Regions from separate parts of the Homo sapiens genome. Here region 2 is linked to region 1. Evidence: fine-mapped expression QTL. Tissue or cell type: atrial appendage. Region 1 holds a variant in brackets; the other region holds the start of a gene. All regions are shown on one strand. Distances are from middle to middle.

The links. PIP is the estimated chance that this variant, and not a neighbour inherited with it, causes the effect.
Region 2: HHIPL2 starts here. The variant in region 1 is fine-mapped to the expression of HHIPL2 in atrial appendage (GTEx, PIP 0.95).

What each region holds. Positions count from the first base shown.
Region 1 is chr1:222,580,431-222,588,537 of GRCh38, reverse strand. TAF1A (TATA-box binding protein associated factor, RNA polymerase I subunit A) reads left to right here. Exons shown (of 11, transcript NM_005681.4): 2 at 1-95; 3 at 4,241-4,410. Among named protein-coding and RNA genes, the nearest start is that of TAF1A-AS1, 5.4 kb to the left of the region's middle. RefSeq lists an enhancer at 6,053-6,192. The variant A/G (reference allele first, on the strand shown) is at 3,958.
Region 2 is chr1:222,543,016-222,551,122 of GRCh38, reverse strand. It overlaps HHIPL2 (HHIP like 2), which reads left to right and starts at 3,019. Exons shown (of 9, transcript NM_024746.4): 1 at 3,019-3,399; 2 at 6,934-7,586. The coding sequence starts at 3,079.

The DNA of each region.
Region 1 (8,107 bases):
AGGGCCTGTGACAGATGATGAAGAAGTGGAAACATCTGTGCTCAGTGGTGCAGGAATGCATTTTCCTTGGCTTCAAACATACGTAGAAACTGTGGGTAAGTAAAATAATAACATTGAGCCATTTTAACTTTAAGGAGGTGGTAAGATTCAATAGGGATACAAAATGAATAACCAGACTGGTTTAATTTTCAAGAGGAATATGTGGAGGGTTTTTTGGCTAAAAGCCAAAAGAAATCTTTTTTCTTTTAGAATTCTTTGCCCTTGGATTAATAATAGATAGTCTGTATTATGCTAGATACACATTTTTTCCAGTAATACTTACTGAGCACTTTTATCTCTGGCATTGATTAAATATTGGGGAGTCATAGGTGAAGATATGGTCTCTGCCATTGAGGAAAACATGCCTAGGAAGTGTTCAAGAAGTTGCTGTTGAATTGCATTGAAATTATTTCGAATAGAATTGATCGTGTAATAGATTTTTTTTTTTTTTGAGACAGAGTCTTGCTCTGTTGCCCACGCTGGAGTGCAGTGGCTAGATCTTGGCTCACTGCAACCTCTGTCTCCCAGGTTCAAGTGATTCTACTCAGCCTCCCGAGTAACTGAGATTACAGGTACCAGCCACCACGCCTGGCTAGTTTTTGTATTTTTAATAGAGACAGGGTTTCACCATGTTGGGCAGGCTGTTCTTGAACTCTTGACCTCAAGTGACCTGCCCACCTCAGCCTCCCAAAGTGGTGGGATTACAGGCATGAGCCACTGCACCCGGCCTAGATAAAAGAGCATTTTCCCCCATTTTTATCTAATGTAAATGCAAGCATGATTTTCTATGGGATAAAATTTCCCCCATTTTTATCTAATATAAATGCAAGTATGTTTTTCTATGGGATAAATTCCCTATAAGAATATATTTAATATAAGTATAAATAAAAGAAGCTATTATCTGTATGCTGGCATATTGAGTGGTATAGTCCTGGGATTACATTTGAACCAGCATTTTACTTACTGCCCTTAAATATGTGTTTTTTTGCCCAGCCTTTTCTCCCCTTGACAGAGATTCCTTGGCTCCTAAAATTTCGCTTCCATTTTTTTCTTTTGATCTAAGTATCATCCCATTTAATGATCTCAGTAAATTCTCAATAAATTTTTATGCTAGGCAGTTTAGGTAGGATGAAACTGAATCTCAAAGACATTAAACTCTTAAGTGGTATCAGGAGTCAAATCCAGGTTTGTCTGATCTCAAAGCTTACACTTTTAACGACTGAGATGCATTTTTAAAAATGAGACAATATATGTAAAGTACCTAGCATAGTATCTCATGCATAATGAGTGTTGAAAAATAATAGTGCCTTTCCTCTCCTCATTTTATTTTTGCTAGATTAATGCACATGGCTTAAGGCAGATTTGAATGAATGATACTTCAGAGGTAGTGCTACCGCATCCCTGGTAGGGAACAAACTAGTAATTTAAATTTCCTATAGTTAAGTCATACTTGGGTATGTTTCTGTTACCAGTGTTCTATAGAAAGTCTGAGTCAGTCTGCAAGCAGATAGGTTTAAGACCAAAGACCAAAATTTACATGCTTAGGAATATTTTATATGTCATGGATAGCCTGTTAAACCGAAAATACTTTTGGTCTGCAATGAGAAAATACTTGCAATTAATATTGACATTGTGCTGGTAATTAACCATAATAGGAAAACAAAATTGCCTAACAATTGTTCTATTTATTTTTTATGCTGGTAGATATCTTTTGGCTTTTTGAAGGGCATGCCCAGCAACCCCCTTAGAATAAAAACTTTGAAGACAGGGCCAGTCTGGATTGAAGCTGTATGATGAGTACCTGCGATAGTGCTTGGGACACAGTGGTGCCCAAAAAATACTTGTTGACAGATTGATAAGTTTCCAGATTCTTTGAGTAGCATATTAGAAGTTAGGTTGATGACACTAGTTCTTTATTGTACATCTCTATTCCATGTAAAAATGTGTTTTCCTTGACAATTTTTTTTTCTTAAAGTCATCAGGATCAAGTAAGACTATCTTTTGCTCATTAAAGAATGAAATGAGAGGAGAACTTTTCCTGAGGTAGCTAGGCTAGGTTGGAAGACAAAAGTATTTTCCAAACATTTAGGTATAGTTATCTAAAGTCAATTTATAATCTCAGTTGTGAAAGCTTGAGCGATAGAAGGGAGCTTAGCCTGAGAACAGTTCTCTCCTTTAGGTAAATAAGGGATGTTTTAAGGACGAGGTGTTTTGTCAGTTTCCTAGGCTAGCTGGCAGGTATTGCCACTGATGCCGAGCAGCTTTGGTGTAGATCTTATAAAATGCAGCTTCTGATTGAGAGAGCTGGGCATAGTACTCTGTAGTTGTAATGAGATTCCAGGTGATACTTCTGCTGCATGCCAGGACCACATTGAGTAGCAAGGGCAGGTCCCCAGGTGATTTGTATGTACATTCAAAAGTCTGAGAACACTAGTCTAGCACAGTAGTCTTCAAACTTTTCACTTTTGTATCCCCTAGTTTTTTCTGAAAAATTGAGTACTACCTTGCATAGTTTTAAGGAATCATCTGAAAAAATTTTATTGTATGTTTAATATTTGCAAGAGATAAAATTTCCAGCATGTTGGTATTTTTAAATGACTATATATTACTTTATATGTGATGGAGTCCAAATAGCACAGGAATGGCATAGGGTTTTAATACCTTGCGTTATTCATTTTAAAAAAAATTATGAACAAGCTTTTAATAGATGGACATTTTATGTTCCTCTTTGTTGTACTTCTTGCAATAAAAGTATGTATCAATATTTATACTTTTTTTGTTTATATCCTGTAAGTTTTAAGAATTAAAACTTTTTCTAGGTTGAGACATTGCTATCATTAATAGTTGTACACAGCTGATCAATATAACGTGTATTAAACGTGTTGTTGGCCAGGTGTGGTGGCTCATGCTCATAATCCCAGCACTTTGGGAGGCCAAAAGGAAGGATCACTTGAACCCAGGAGGTCTAGGCTATGGTGAGCTGTGATTGTGCTAGTGCGGTCCAGCCTGGGTGACAGAGCAAGACTCTTTTTTTTTTTTTTTTAATAAAGTTATCTAAAACTTTTCCCCAATTTTTTATGTATTTGTGGGTGACTTTTATGTATTTCTAGAATGAGAAAACATTTAGCATTGATTCTGCTATTTTTTTTAATTGACATAAATTCTGAGAAACCTTAGTCACATAAGTAAGTAGATGGCAGTGAATGGAGTTTAATTATAGCCGTGTATCAGGTCTGTGAATTTTTTCTAAATTATTGATGAAAAATTGCATAATGATTTATTGTAAAAAATTACGTTGTTCTGCAGTTTTGATGAGCAAAGAATTGGGAATTGCCTAACTTGCAAAAGGAGATGTTAGAGTTATTTACTTTTTCAACACCTGTGTTTTCACCTTCAGATAGTGTGTAATGATTTTGATTGTGAAGCTTTGACTATGTAGGCACAGCTGTCTAGGAGATTAACTTGTGGAAAGAGTATGTAAGGAAATCAAATATCTGCAAGTTAATTGTTTTAAAAGTATCTTTGTAAAGTACCTGTTGGTCTTTGTGTACTTACTGGGGTACAATTACCCAGCTGGACTAGAGGGGTCTCATAGTTACGTGGGAAGATAAGAAGATGTAGCAATGTAACTAGTCATTCATATAATAGCACTGTATCTAAGCCCAAATGTTCTTAACATTGGGATTGCCAATACTTTAGAGATATAAATGCTAATTTTTGCAACTGTTTTAATCTCATTTGTATATAATATCATTGAGTTACTAGGAATTTGGTCCTTAAAAAATAAAAGCCCACTTGGGGTTTGCAGAACATGGGTAGGTAATAAAGACCATGTTTGCCTAGAATGACCCTGACATTTTACCCATTCTAAATACCTGGGACTGTGCTTTTGGGGGCCTGTTTGAGAGATTCTCCGCA[A/G]ATTATTTGGTACAAGGATGAAAGGATGATTGAATCAGATTTAAAGGATCTGGTGACTCTAGTAGCCCCAAAACATCAAATTAGAAATGTTTTTATCTGCTAAAAATAATTAATATAATGTAGAAGGGTTTGTTTCAAGTGAAGCTGGCTTTGGTACTGGGAATGGGCTGGGTCAAGTAATGCCTACTGTTTACTTGTTAAAACTTCTTATCAGAAGTAAGTTTTTTGAATAGTTGAACTGGAGCCACTTGGATAAAAACTCTCTTCTTTTTCGTTTTTATAGCCATTGGAGGGAAAAGGAGGAAGGATTTTGCTCAGACAACAAGTGCTTGTTTAAGTTTTATCCAAGAAGCTCTGCTGAAGCACCAATGGCAGCAAGCTGCAGAATACATGTACAGTTATTTTCAGACCTTGGAAGATTCAGATAGCTACAAAAGGCAGGCTGCACCTGAGGTAAATAAAATTTGAGTTTGCTGGAAGAAATGATAGATTCCCAGAAGTTTATGCCTACAGCTTCACCTACAGTAGCTTTTACAGAATCTCAGTGATTTTGCTAAAAGCTACTAAAACTACTTTTGAGTGGAGAGTTTGTATTGGGACCTTTTTTGCACACTTCTTTTTACCTCTTATTTTAAAGGGGACTAAAATGTTCATTCCAATAATTCTTCCTTTTCCCCCCTCTTTATGGATGTTTCCCATCATCATGTAAAAATTTTGTTATTCTATCTTTTTTTTTTTTTTTTGAGACGGAGTCTTGCTCTGTCGCCAGGCTGGAGTGAAGTAGCGCGATCTCGGCTCACTGCAATCTCTTACCTCCTGGGTTCAAGTGATTCCCCTGCCTCAGCCTCCTGAGTAGCTGGGACTACAGGCATGTACCACCACGCCCGGCTAATTTTTTGTATTTTGGTAGAGACGGGGTTTCACCAGGTTGGCCAGGACGGTCTCAATCTCTTGACCTCGTGATCCGCCTGCCTCGGCCTCCCAAAGTGCTGGGATTACAGGTGTGAGCCACCATGCCCAGCCTATTCTATCTTAAAATCATCTCTTGACCCAAACTTCCCCCATAGACTATACTTCATTGTTTTACTCTCTTTCAGCAAAACTTCTTGAAAGAGTTGTTCTCTTTTTCCAACTAGAGTGATCCTTTTTTTTTTCGTTTTATCAAGACGTTTTTTATACGCCATCACCCACTTAAATTGTACAATTCAATGTATTTTCATACATTTACAGAGTTGTGCAACCAACCATTACCACACTCTAAATTTAGAACCTTTTTTTTCTCCCATGAAACCAAAACCCTGTACCCACTTGCAGTCCTTCCCCATTCCTCCTCACAGCTGCCGGACACTGGCAGCCACTAATCTATTACTTTCTTTTTCTTTTTTTGTTTTCTTTTGAAACGGAGTCTTGCTCTGTTGCCCAGGCTGGAGTGCAGTGGCATGATCTCTGCTCACTGCAACCTCCAGCTCCTGTGTTCAAGTGATTCTTGTACCTCAGCCTCTTGGGTGGCTGGGATTGCAGGCATGCACCACCACACCTATCTAGTTTTTTGTATTTTTAGTGGAGACTGGGTTTCACTCTGTTGGCCAGGCAGGTCTTGAACTCCTGGCCTCAAGTGATCTGTCCACCTCGGCCTCCCCAAAGTGCTGGTATTGCAAGCGTGAGCCACTATGGCCAGCCTAATCTATTTTCTATTCTGGACATTTCATATAAGTGGTTTTGTACAATATGTGGCCTTTTGTAAATGATTTCTTTCACTTGGCATAATGTTTTCATGGTTTATCCATGTTGTAGCATGTATAAGTACTTCATTACTTTTATTGCCAAATAATCTGTCATATGGAAATACCATGTTTTATTTGTCCATTTATCAGTTGTTAGACACTTAGGTTGTTTTTGCTTTTCGGTTATTGGAAATAATGCTTCTGCGAACATTTGTGTACAGGTTTTTGTGTGGACGTTTGTTTTAATTTCTCCTGGGTCTACACCTGGGAGTGGAATTGCTGGTCATATGGTAACACTATGTTTAGCCTCTTGAGGAACTGCCAGACTGTTTTCCAAAGTGGCCATACCATTTATATTCTCACCAGCAATATCTGAGGCTTCTAATTTCTCTAATCCTTGCCAATATTTTGTTATTGTCCTGTCTTACTGATAATAGTCATCCTTGTGGTTGTGAAGTGGCATCATCCTGGTTATGATTTGCATTTCTCTAATGACTAATGATTCAGAGTGAGCTTTTTAAAACATATCAGATCATGTCACTCCTCTGCTGAAAACACTGTAATAGCTTTCCATTTCATTCAGTAAAAGCCAAAGTCATAATTGCCTATAAATTCCTATGTGATGTGCTCACTTCCTTTCCTTGTTTGACCTCTCTGACTTCATCTCCTGAAACAGGTGGAGCATTCCGAATTCAAAAATGTGAAAACCAGAATGCTTCAAAGCTTTTTCATTACTGACATGAGATAGTGACACCTTTGCTTTCTAATGGTTCAATGTATACAAATTTTGTTTCATGCACAAAATTTTAAGAATATTATATAAAATTACCTTCAGGCTATATGTATAGGTGTATATGAAACATAAGTGAATTTCATGTTTAGCCTTTGGTCCTATCCCCAGTCTCATTATGTATATACAAATATTTAAAAAGCGGAAACAATTTCAAGTCTGAAACATTTCTGGTCCCAACGATTTCAGATAAGGGATACTCAACCTGTATTATCCTGCTTGTTTTTTCTTTTCCATCCTCACTGGTCTCCTTGTTCTTACTTGAATGGGCCAGGCATATTCCTGACTGATTGCCTTTGCCTTAACCAGTTCTTGGAAAGCTCTTTCTTCAGCTATCACTGCAGCTACCCTCCTTCAAGGCCCCTTTTCATTGAGGCCTACTTTGACTATTTAAAATTGCAATTGCCTTACTCCAACTGCAACCTGCACTTTCTGAATGGCACTCCTGATCTCCTTGTCCTGCTGCATTCTTTTCCTCTAACAGTTGACAATTTAATTATATTTCTTGGTTATTGTTTGTCTCTCTACATAGAATGTAAATTTCACAGGGCAGGGTTAAAACAGTGCCTGGCATATACTGCTAAATTTCTTCAGTAAAAGACAGTTTACCCACAAATAACTTGACATGAGTGTCTCATAGGTTTTACTAACACAGTCACCATTGCATCAATTAGTTATCTTCTAGAGCAAAAAAAATAAAAAAGAGAAGCTGAAAAAAAAGTTTAACCATTCATTGAAAATTTAATTTATGGACTTAAGTTACATACTCCTGTAAAACATTGAACATGTTACAGCCTCTTGTTGTCCAGATTTTGTTTTGTAAAATGAAGGAATTGGATCAGTGGTTTTTGAGCACTTCTTTGGCTCTCTTTGGATCACCTAGGGCTTTCATTCAAAGTATAAATTCCTTTACTCCACCCCTGTCTATTGAGTCAGAGTATCTTTTATTTGTATTTTTTTATTTTTTGAGATGGAGTCTCACTCACTTTGTCACCCAGGCTGGAGTGCAGTGGCACGATCTTGGCTCGCTGCAAGCTCCGCCTCCCGCCACGACGCCTGGCTAATTTTTTGTATTTTTAGTAGAGACGGGGTTTCACCGTGTTAGCCAGGATGGTCTCACTCTCCTGACCTCGTGATCCACCCGCCTCGGCCTCCCAAAATCCTGGGATTACAGGTGTGAGCCACCGCGCCTGGCCCAGAATACCTATTTTTAACTGGTGTCCCATGTAATTACTGTGTACACTGGTGGTGAGAATAGCTATCATAATCTCAAAGTTTTCTTTTTTTTTTTTTTCCTGCTTTTCTTCCCCCCCTGCATTTACCCATCCCTGGTGGTAGGTGATCCAAGACCCAGGTTTTCTTTAAGCTCCCAAATACTACAGTGTGATATTCTACAAATGAAATCTTGATATCTCTGAGTTGGGAAGATGAGGATCCTTATATCAAATGATAATATGTGTATCATATATAACTATAGCAGTGATAGTGTGTGTATCCACATATAACCAATATGTATGTTCATAGAAATAATTGATTTACAGTTCAGTTTAATTTACTTTGAAGTTGGTATTATTGATTACTTTAAATTGAGGTTAGCGAAATAGAGATTTGCTCTCATGAAAAAAGAGCTCCAAGT
Region 2 (8,107 bases), 37 kb after region 1:
GTCTCAAACTCCTGGCCTCAAGTGATCCACCCGCCTCAGCCTCCCAAAGTGTTGGGATTACAGGCATGAGCCACTGCACCCGGCCAACTAGGTGTAGTACTGAACAGTACAAATAGGAAAGCAGGACTATTCTGATGATCATTCTGACTACTCCCTCCTATCTATCTATCTATCTATCTATCTATCTATCTATCTATCTATGCATCTATCTTTCTGCCTACCTACCTATCTACAGGATCTTCCTGTGTCACCCAGGCTGGAGTGCAGCGGTGTGATCACAGATCACCACAGCCTCGAACTCCTATGCTCAAGCAATTCTCCCACCTTAGCCTCCCAAGTAACTAGGACTACAGATACACGCCACCACACCCAGCTAATTTAAAAAATTTTTATAGCAACAGGGTCTCACTATGTTGCCCAGTCTGGTCTTAAACTTTTGGGCTCAAATGATCCTCCTGCCTTGGCCTCCCAAAGTCCTGGGATTATAGGCATTAACCACACCTGGCCAATTTTGTTTGTATTTTAAATGCTATTTGGGGCTTTCATAATCCAGAACATTGTGAGTATAGACTTGGCTAGACTGAGGTTCACTGTCCCTTCTTGATGATACCCTGGCAAATACTGTTTCTGGCGATGAGTTGGGCAGCCAGGTAGGGCACCCTCTGAAGCAGCACATCTGGAACAAGAAGAAACTTGGACTTCATCTGCGTTTCAAACAGAAGCTTTTGCCAGTAAGGAAATTCAAGGTGGACCAGAACCATGGAAAATGCTGAAAGGAGAGTTAGCTCAAGTGCCAAATGTCCCCATTGGCCTACACCTTGGCTCATGCTTGTTTGGGTTTGGGGCTGTGTGAGTTTGGGACTCCTGTTCTGCATTTATTCATTCAAGAAATATTTATCAAAGCCTGTTATGTGCAAGGGATGTGGACAAAGGAAAACACGTTTTTATTTTATTTTATATTTATTTTATTATTATTACTTTTTGAGATGGAGTTTCACTCTTGTTGCCCAGGCTGGAGTGCAATGGCACAGTCTCAGCTCACTGCAACCTCTGCCTTCTGGGTTCAAGCGATTCTCCTGCCTCAGCCTCCCAAGTAGCTGGGATTACAGGCGCCCGCCACCACACCCAGCTAATTTTTTTTTTTTTTGAGATGGAGTCTTGCTCTGTCACCCAGGCTGGAATGCAGTGGCATGATCTCGGCTCACTGCAACCTTCGCCTGCTGGGTTCAAGCAATTATCCTGCCTCAGCCTCCTGAGTAGCTGGGACTACAGGCATGCGCCACCATGCCCAGCTAATTTTTTGTATTTTTAGTAGAAACGGGGTTTCGCCATGCTGGCCAGGCTGGTCTTGAACTCCTGACCTTGTGATCCGCCCGCCTTGGCCTCCCAAAGTGCTGGGATTACAGGTGTGAGCTACCACACCTGGCCGCTAATTCTTGTATTTTTAGGAAAGATGGAATTTCACCATGTTGGCCAGGCTGGTCTTGAACTCCGGACCTCAGGTGATTCACCCGCCTCGGCCTCCCAAAGTGCTGGGATTTCAGGCATGAGCCACTGTGCCCGGCCACAAAACACATTTTTAAAATACTAATGTGGGAACATATACTAAGTGAGGAGGAGTGTCCCTACAGCAGGTATAGATTTGGCAAAGGAAGGCACCCAGTTGTCCTGTGCTTCCTGAGGAAATTGTCCCAAACAGTCCTTGTTGATTCCTTGTTTTCACTGGACCACCTCCCTCTTCTATGGTCTGAATGTGTCCCTCCCTACCTCAGATTCATAGATTGGAATGTAATCGCCAATGTGATAGTATTAAGAAGTGGAGCCTTTGGGAGGTGATTAGGTCATGAAGGCAGAGGCCTCATGGATAGGATTAGGGTCTTTATAAAAGGTCTTGAAGGAGTGGATTTGAACCATCCTGTCCCACCATGGGAGCAACAAGTCACCATCAATGAGGAACAGAGCCCTCGTCGGACACTGAACCTGTTGGCATCTCTTATTTTTTTTTATTTTTAGAGATGGTCTTGCTCTGTTGCCCAGGCTGGAGTGCAGTGGCGTGATCATAGCTGACTGCAGCCTCAAACTCCTGGGCTCAAGCAATCCTCCTGACTCAGCTTCCCAAGTAGCTGGAACTACAGGTGTGCACCACCATGGCTGGTTAATTTTCTTTTTATATTTGTAGAGACGGGGTCTCACAGCATTGCCCAGTTTGGTCTCAACCTCCTGGGCTCAAGTAATCCTCCTGCCTCAGGCTCCCGCAGTGCTGGGATTACATGCATGAACCACCATGCCCAGCCCCTACTGCCATCTTGATCTTGGACTTCCCAGCCTCCAGAACTGTGACCAATACATTTCTATTATTTATAATTACAGTCTGTGGTGTTTTGTTACAGCAGCATGGACTAAGATTCCCCTTCTTTTCCTTCACTGTGTCCTCCTTCCTCTCCTTGGTCCTTACTGTGGATGCAAGATTCATGAAATGCCCTCTCTTCCTACCCTTCCAAATATACACCTTGCCAGATCCCAGGAGCTATACAGCACACCCTGCCTCCTGCCATGGCCCCTCCATATCTCCCACCGCCTTGGGGCCCTTCAGCACTGTAGAAACGCTTGAAGCTTTCCTTCTACAGAGTGTGAAGTCTGGGATGATGTAATATATGGTGCTCTCATGGTGACTCTGGGCCTCTCAGCCTGTGAAGAAACATAAAAAAGTGTGAATTTCCGGGCATCCCCACAGACAGCAGGAATTCTTTGCAGTTTTAAGGAATCGAGCACCTCTGCCATTGACACCACTACACTTTTGGCTAAGCAAAGGTGTGCCCCCATAACACTAGCAGCACTAGAGTGGGGCTTCATGTTTAGATGGGTTGGGGGAGGGGGGAAGGGACACCTCCCACTGCTTTCAAAGGGAGCCCACAGAAGGGACACTGCTCAGAAACTACCTCAGCAGGGAGGGGCGGGGAAGAGGAGGAAGGAGGAGAAAACAGGGTGGAGTAGGGGGAGGAAGAGAGGGAGGACCTTGGGCAGAGCAGGGAAGCCAACCTGAGCAAACACAGCAGCCCGAGTGTTCCCAAGGCCAAAATGCTGAGAACGTCCACTCCTAATCTGTGTGGTGGTCTGCATTGCCGGGCCCCCTGGCTCTCTTCTGGCATTCTCTGCCTCTGCCTCATATTCTTGTTGGGCCAGGTGGGCTTGCTGCAGGGACACCCCCAGTGCCTGGATTACGGGCCCCCTTTCCAGCCCCCTCTGCACCTTGAGTTTTGCTCTGACTATGAGTCCTTCGGCTGCTGTGATCAGCACAAGGACCGCCGCATCGCTGCCCGGTACTGGGACATCATGGAATATTTTGATCTGAAGAGACATGAGCTGTGTGGAGATTACATTAAAGACATCCTTTGCCAGGTAGTGAAAAGTGCCTTCCAGCCCCAGGGGTTTGGGTGCTGGGCTGCATGGTGTGGGTCCTGAGCGGAGGGTGCTTTGGGAGCCCAGCCCTTTAGAAGTTCATGTGCCGGGTGCCTCATCTTGGAGCTGCCGGCTTTGGACACGCACACTGACATGAGTGTGTGCTGAATTTGGTCTCCATGGGTTCCCCAAAGCTCTCCCTCTGGGATTCTGCTGGCCCTGATTCTTCTCCAGGCTCCAGGAGAATGAGAGGGACACTCTTCCTGGAGCTCTCAGAGCAGCCATTATTTGCCACACTCCCTCTGTGGTGCATGGCAAATAATTATTTGCATCCTCTGCGGTGCTCAGAGAGCTAGGCACTTAAACCCGTGGAATTTACCGAGCGCGTTAAGGGAGGGAGTGGTGGCATCTGCTGGGGTCCAGTCCTTTTCATCTGGGTGATTTGTGCCAGGGCATCTCTGGCGTCACCCTGGCGGTGGCAGGGGTTGGAGACTCTCTCCAGAGTTCTGTCTGCCCAGCACTCCAGAGCTGGAAGAGAGAGATGCAAGCTGCTGAGTAGCAGTGACTCACAGAGTTTCTGCTTCTCCTGGTTGCCCAACAGCCAAAATCCACATGCCTGGGAGGCATCGTTTTGATTGAGCTCAGCCTGAAAACAAGACGGGTGTAGGCTGCACACACAGACTTTGTAGGAAGAGGGTGTTTGGGGGTTAATGGGGAGAGGTCAGCATTTGGAAAGCTGATAAAAGAGGCTGCCTGGGGAGGACCCCTCTAATGATGTTGGGGAGGAGAGGCAAGAAGTCCAGGCAGCCTTTTGAACTGAGACCCCCTGGGCTTGTCAGCACAATGACTTGGCTATCCACAGGCATCTGTTCATGACTCCTGGCGCCACTGTTCCTGAGCCTGCAGACCACTGTAACTCCCACATAGGGCGTGAAGTGGTTAACCGAGCTTCCCAGAGTCCAGGAGAGAATTACAGCTGAGCCTGGCCCAGAAAGTCAGCCACCTGGGTGGCACCGCCTGGGGCTGTCCTCTTAGACACCACTCCACAGCTGTTTCCTGGAGAATTAACTCTAGGATTCCCATTAGGGTAGAAGCTGAGCTTTTACAAGCAGCACTGAGAATGTTTATTTCTGAGATCATCCCTGGTAAAAATTTATACCCCTGACCCTTCCCTCTTGCATGAGGTTTCAGAAAGTCAAAGTCAGCAGCTCTGTTGTTTTAGGGATTTGAGGAATAAGAACAATTTCAGCCAAACAGTCCTACACGTGTTTATTTATTCACATTTATAAGGTCCTCTTTCTTCCCCAACGTATGTAGTGTGTACCCAGCAATGATTCTGCAGGCAGTTGTTATGATCCTCATTTTACTGATGAGGGCTCAAGAGTTTAGATGACTTACCCAAGGTAAAACAATCCTGGGGCACAGAGCCAGATGCTCAGGCTCCAAGTTTTGTGCCTTTTGATCACACCGTGCTAAAGTATAGTTACAGCAGCACTGGCTTGTTTACTTAACGGTTTTCTGAGCTCCCCAAACTATATGCTCCATTGGAAGAGAGACTTTGTGCATTTCGCTCACTGCTGCATCCCAATCAATGTAGAGAACGGTGCCTGGCACGTAAGACAGACTCAACAGGAGAGTCACATAGGACTTTTATTTATTTATTTATTTATTTATTTTTTGAGACAGAGTCTTACTCTGTCACTCAGGATGGAGTGCAGTGGCACGGTCTTGGCTGACTACAACCTCTGCCTCCCGGCTTCAAGCGATTCTCCTGTCTCAGCCTCCTGAGTACCTGGGACTACAGGCACATGACACCATGCCTGGGTTTTTTTATTTTTTTAATTTTTTTATTTTTAGTAGTGACAGGGTTTCACCATGTTGGCCAGGCTGGTCTTGAACTCCTGACCTTAGGTGATCTGCCCCCCTCATCCTCTCAAAGTGCTGGGATTACAGGCGTGAGCTACTGCGCCTGGCTAGAGACCTTATGGGCTTTGATTTTCTTCCCTTTGAAGTAGGGAAGTATCTGTTCATTTACTGAGCTAATTGAGTAGAAGCAAATTTGCAAACTCTAAATGGCTGCATGAGAGTGTGCCATAGTGATGGTTCTCTTTCCACAGCCCCCTTCTATTCTCTAGTATTGGATCCTTAATTCAGCCTCCCTTCTCCCTTTTTCCCAGTCTCCGAGAGTGGACAGAATGAGCAAGGGGACACTTAAGAGTGGGTCATGTTGCTTCTTGATAGCTGCTGTGATAAGTGTCTTAAATGGAAACAGACACCCCGAGGGGAGCCTGCGAATCTCTGAGCTCCTTCTTCCACTCTGCCCAATGACCGAAAGCTGACTCTGCAGCGTACAATCAGAGGAAATAAGAGAGAACAGGGAACTCACATATACATGAAAAATGCTGCTGGTCCTTTTGTGAAGCGATGGCAGCACAGAGGTGAATGAGATGGTTCTGCACAGGCTGGCTGGCTCAGGAGAGTCCTTAGTGATCAGAAGGGGGCTTCTGGGCCAATGGGTGAACTCTGCTCTAATGCACGGCTCCAAACGACACCCTTTGAATTGGGCTTTCTTACCTTCCTAATCTCAGTTGCCTCTGTCTTTCATCACTACTGGGAGTCGCTCGTCTGCTCACAATATTCTATTTTCCTCCTAAAAAATGTTATAGTCTAGGGAGGTCCAAGTAGCAGATACTCCTTTGAGCAAATAGTCCTTATATGTTTGTGTAAGGAGCAGGCATATTGCCCTATAGCCACAATTCAAATGTGTATAGGTTCCAGCATGGTACTTTGCATATATTAAACACTGAAATTTTTAAAATCAATAATTAAAGAAATTGCTAAACACCTAATCTCTGAGAGTGATACATCCAATGTCAATTCTGATAACTTTATTTTTCATTGTAAAATATTCCAAAAATATGGAAAAGCACAGAAAAATAATTAACACTGTATCTCCAACAACCAGATTTGAACAAATGTAAAATTTTTGCCAAATTGTTTCAGATTTGTATAAAGAAATAACATCTTGGTAGATATAGCATCCATAAGAAAATGAGGCTGGGCCGACATGGTGGCTCATGCCTGTAATCCCAGCACTTTGGGAGATCGAAGAGGCAGGAGAATCACTTGAGCCTAGGAGTTAGGAATCAGCCTGGGCAACATGGTGAGGCCGTTTCTATGAAAAATAAAATAAAATGAAAATTAAAAAATAAGAAAGAGATCTAGAAATTTAGTAATATCTTTTTGAAAAAATATTCATGCATCATTTAATAAAACTTTAAATGTCAAAAACTAAGCTGAAATGTTAGAGATAGTACAGTGAATATGAGAGATTTTCCCTGTTTTCTGCCTTCTAGGAGCATTAACTAGGTAGAAAATCACAGAGAAGAGTTTTAGCAGCAGTTGGTAACAAAAACTCCAAAATCCTGATTTTTTCCGCCTAGCACCATTTTTTCTTTCTGCTTGCTCAAAACTTGAGACAAGTGCCGGTGTGGCAGGTCTGATGCTGAGCCTGAGCTCCGCGTTCTTTTTTAGGAGTGCTCGCCCTACGCAGCCCACCTCTACGACGCCGAAAACACCCAGACGCCTCTCCGGAATCTCCCGGGCCTCTGCTCTGATTACTGCTCTGCCTTCCATTCTAACTGTCACTCAGCCATTTCCCTGCTGACCAATGACCGCGGCCTCCAGGAGTCTCATGGAAGGGACGGTACCCGCTTCTGCCACCTCCTGGACCTTCCTGACAAGGACTATTGCTTCCCTAATGTCCTGAGGAACGACTATCTCAACCGCCACCTGGGCATGGTGGCCCAAGATCCTCAGGGCTGCCTGCAGCTCTGCCTGAGCGAGGTGGCCAACGGGCTGAGGAACCCCGTCTCCATGGTCCATGCTGGGGACGGCACCCATCGCTTCTTTGTTGCCGAGCAGGTAGGAGTGGTGTGGGTCTACCTCCCTGATGGGAGTCGCCTGGAGCAACCCTTCCTGGACCTCAAGAACATCGTGTTGACCACCCCATGGATCGGGGATGAGAGAGGCTTCTTGGGGTTGGCTTTTCACCCCAAATTCCGCCACAATCGCAAGTTCTATATTTATTATTCGTGCCTGGACAAGAAGAAGGTAGAAAAGATCCGAATTAGTGAGATGAAGGTTTCTCGGGCTGATCCTAACAAAGCTGACCTGAAATCAGAGAGGTGAGAGGTACTCATGAGAGCCTACAGCTGTACTGTGTTCCGAAATAATGCCAACCAGGTCTGCGAGATAATAGAGGGGAACTTCACTGGTTTTAGAGCACTACTCGAACTGTTGAGAAAGGAGTCACTGTGGATTGAGAACGGCCCAAGTTAGCCTCTTGAGTTAAGGCTGTTTAATGGGATGTAGCCATCACCTTACAGTTACCCTAAATAAAGACATACTTTCCTGTCTTTACAAAGGGTAAGTAAGGACCAGCAGCCATAGGGGTCTGAGAAAGGATTATAGATAATATCAACATATGAAACATAATAGTAGCCTCTGATTATTATGTGCCATTAGATCCCAGGGCCTTTACTTTGAATGTGGGATTTCTTATTCTCACTGGAAGCTGTGGCACAAGGCCATCAAGCTATGGATGCATGGCCAGGTGAGGACTCAGTTTTAACTGACCCCAAGTTCATGCTCTTTCCACCCTACCACTCTGCCTTTGTTTTTCCTTCTTCTCCTTTCTCTCTTGTTT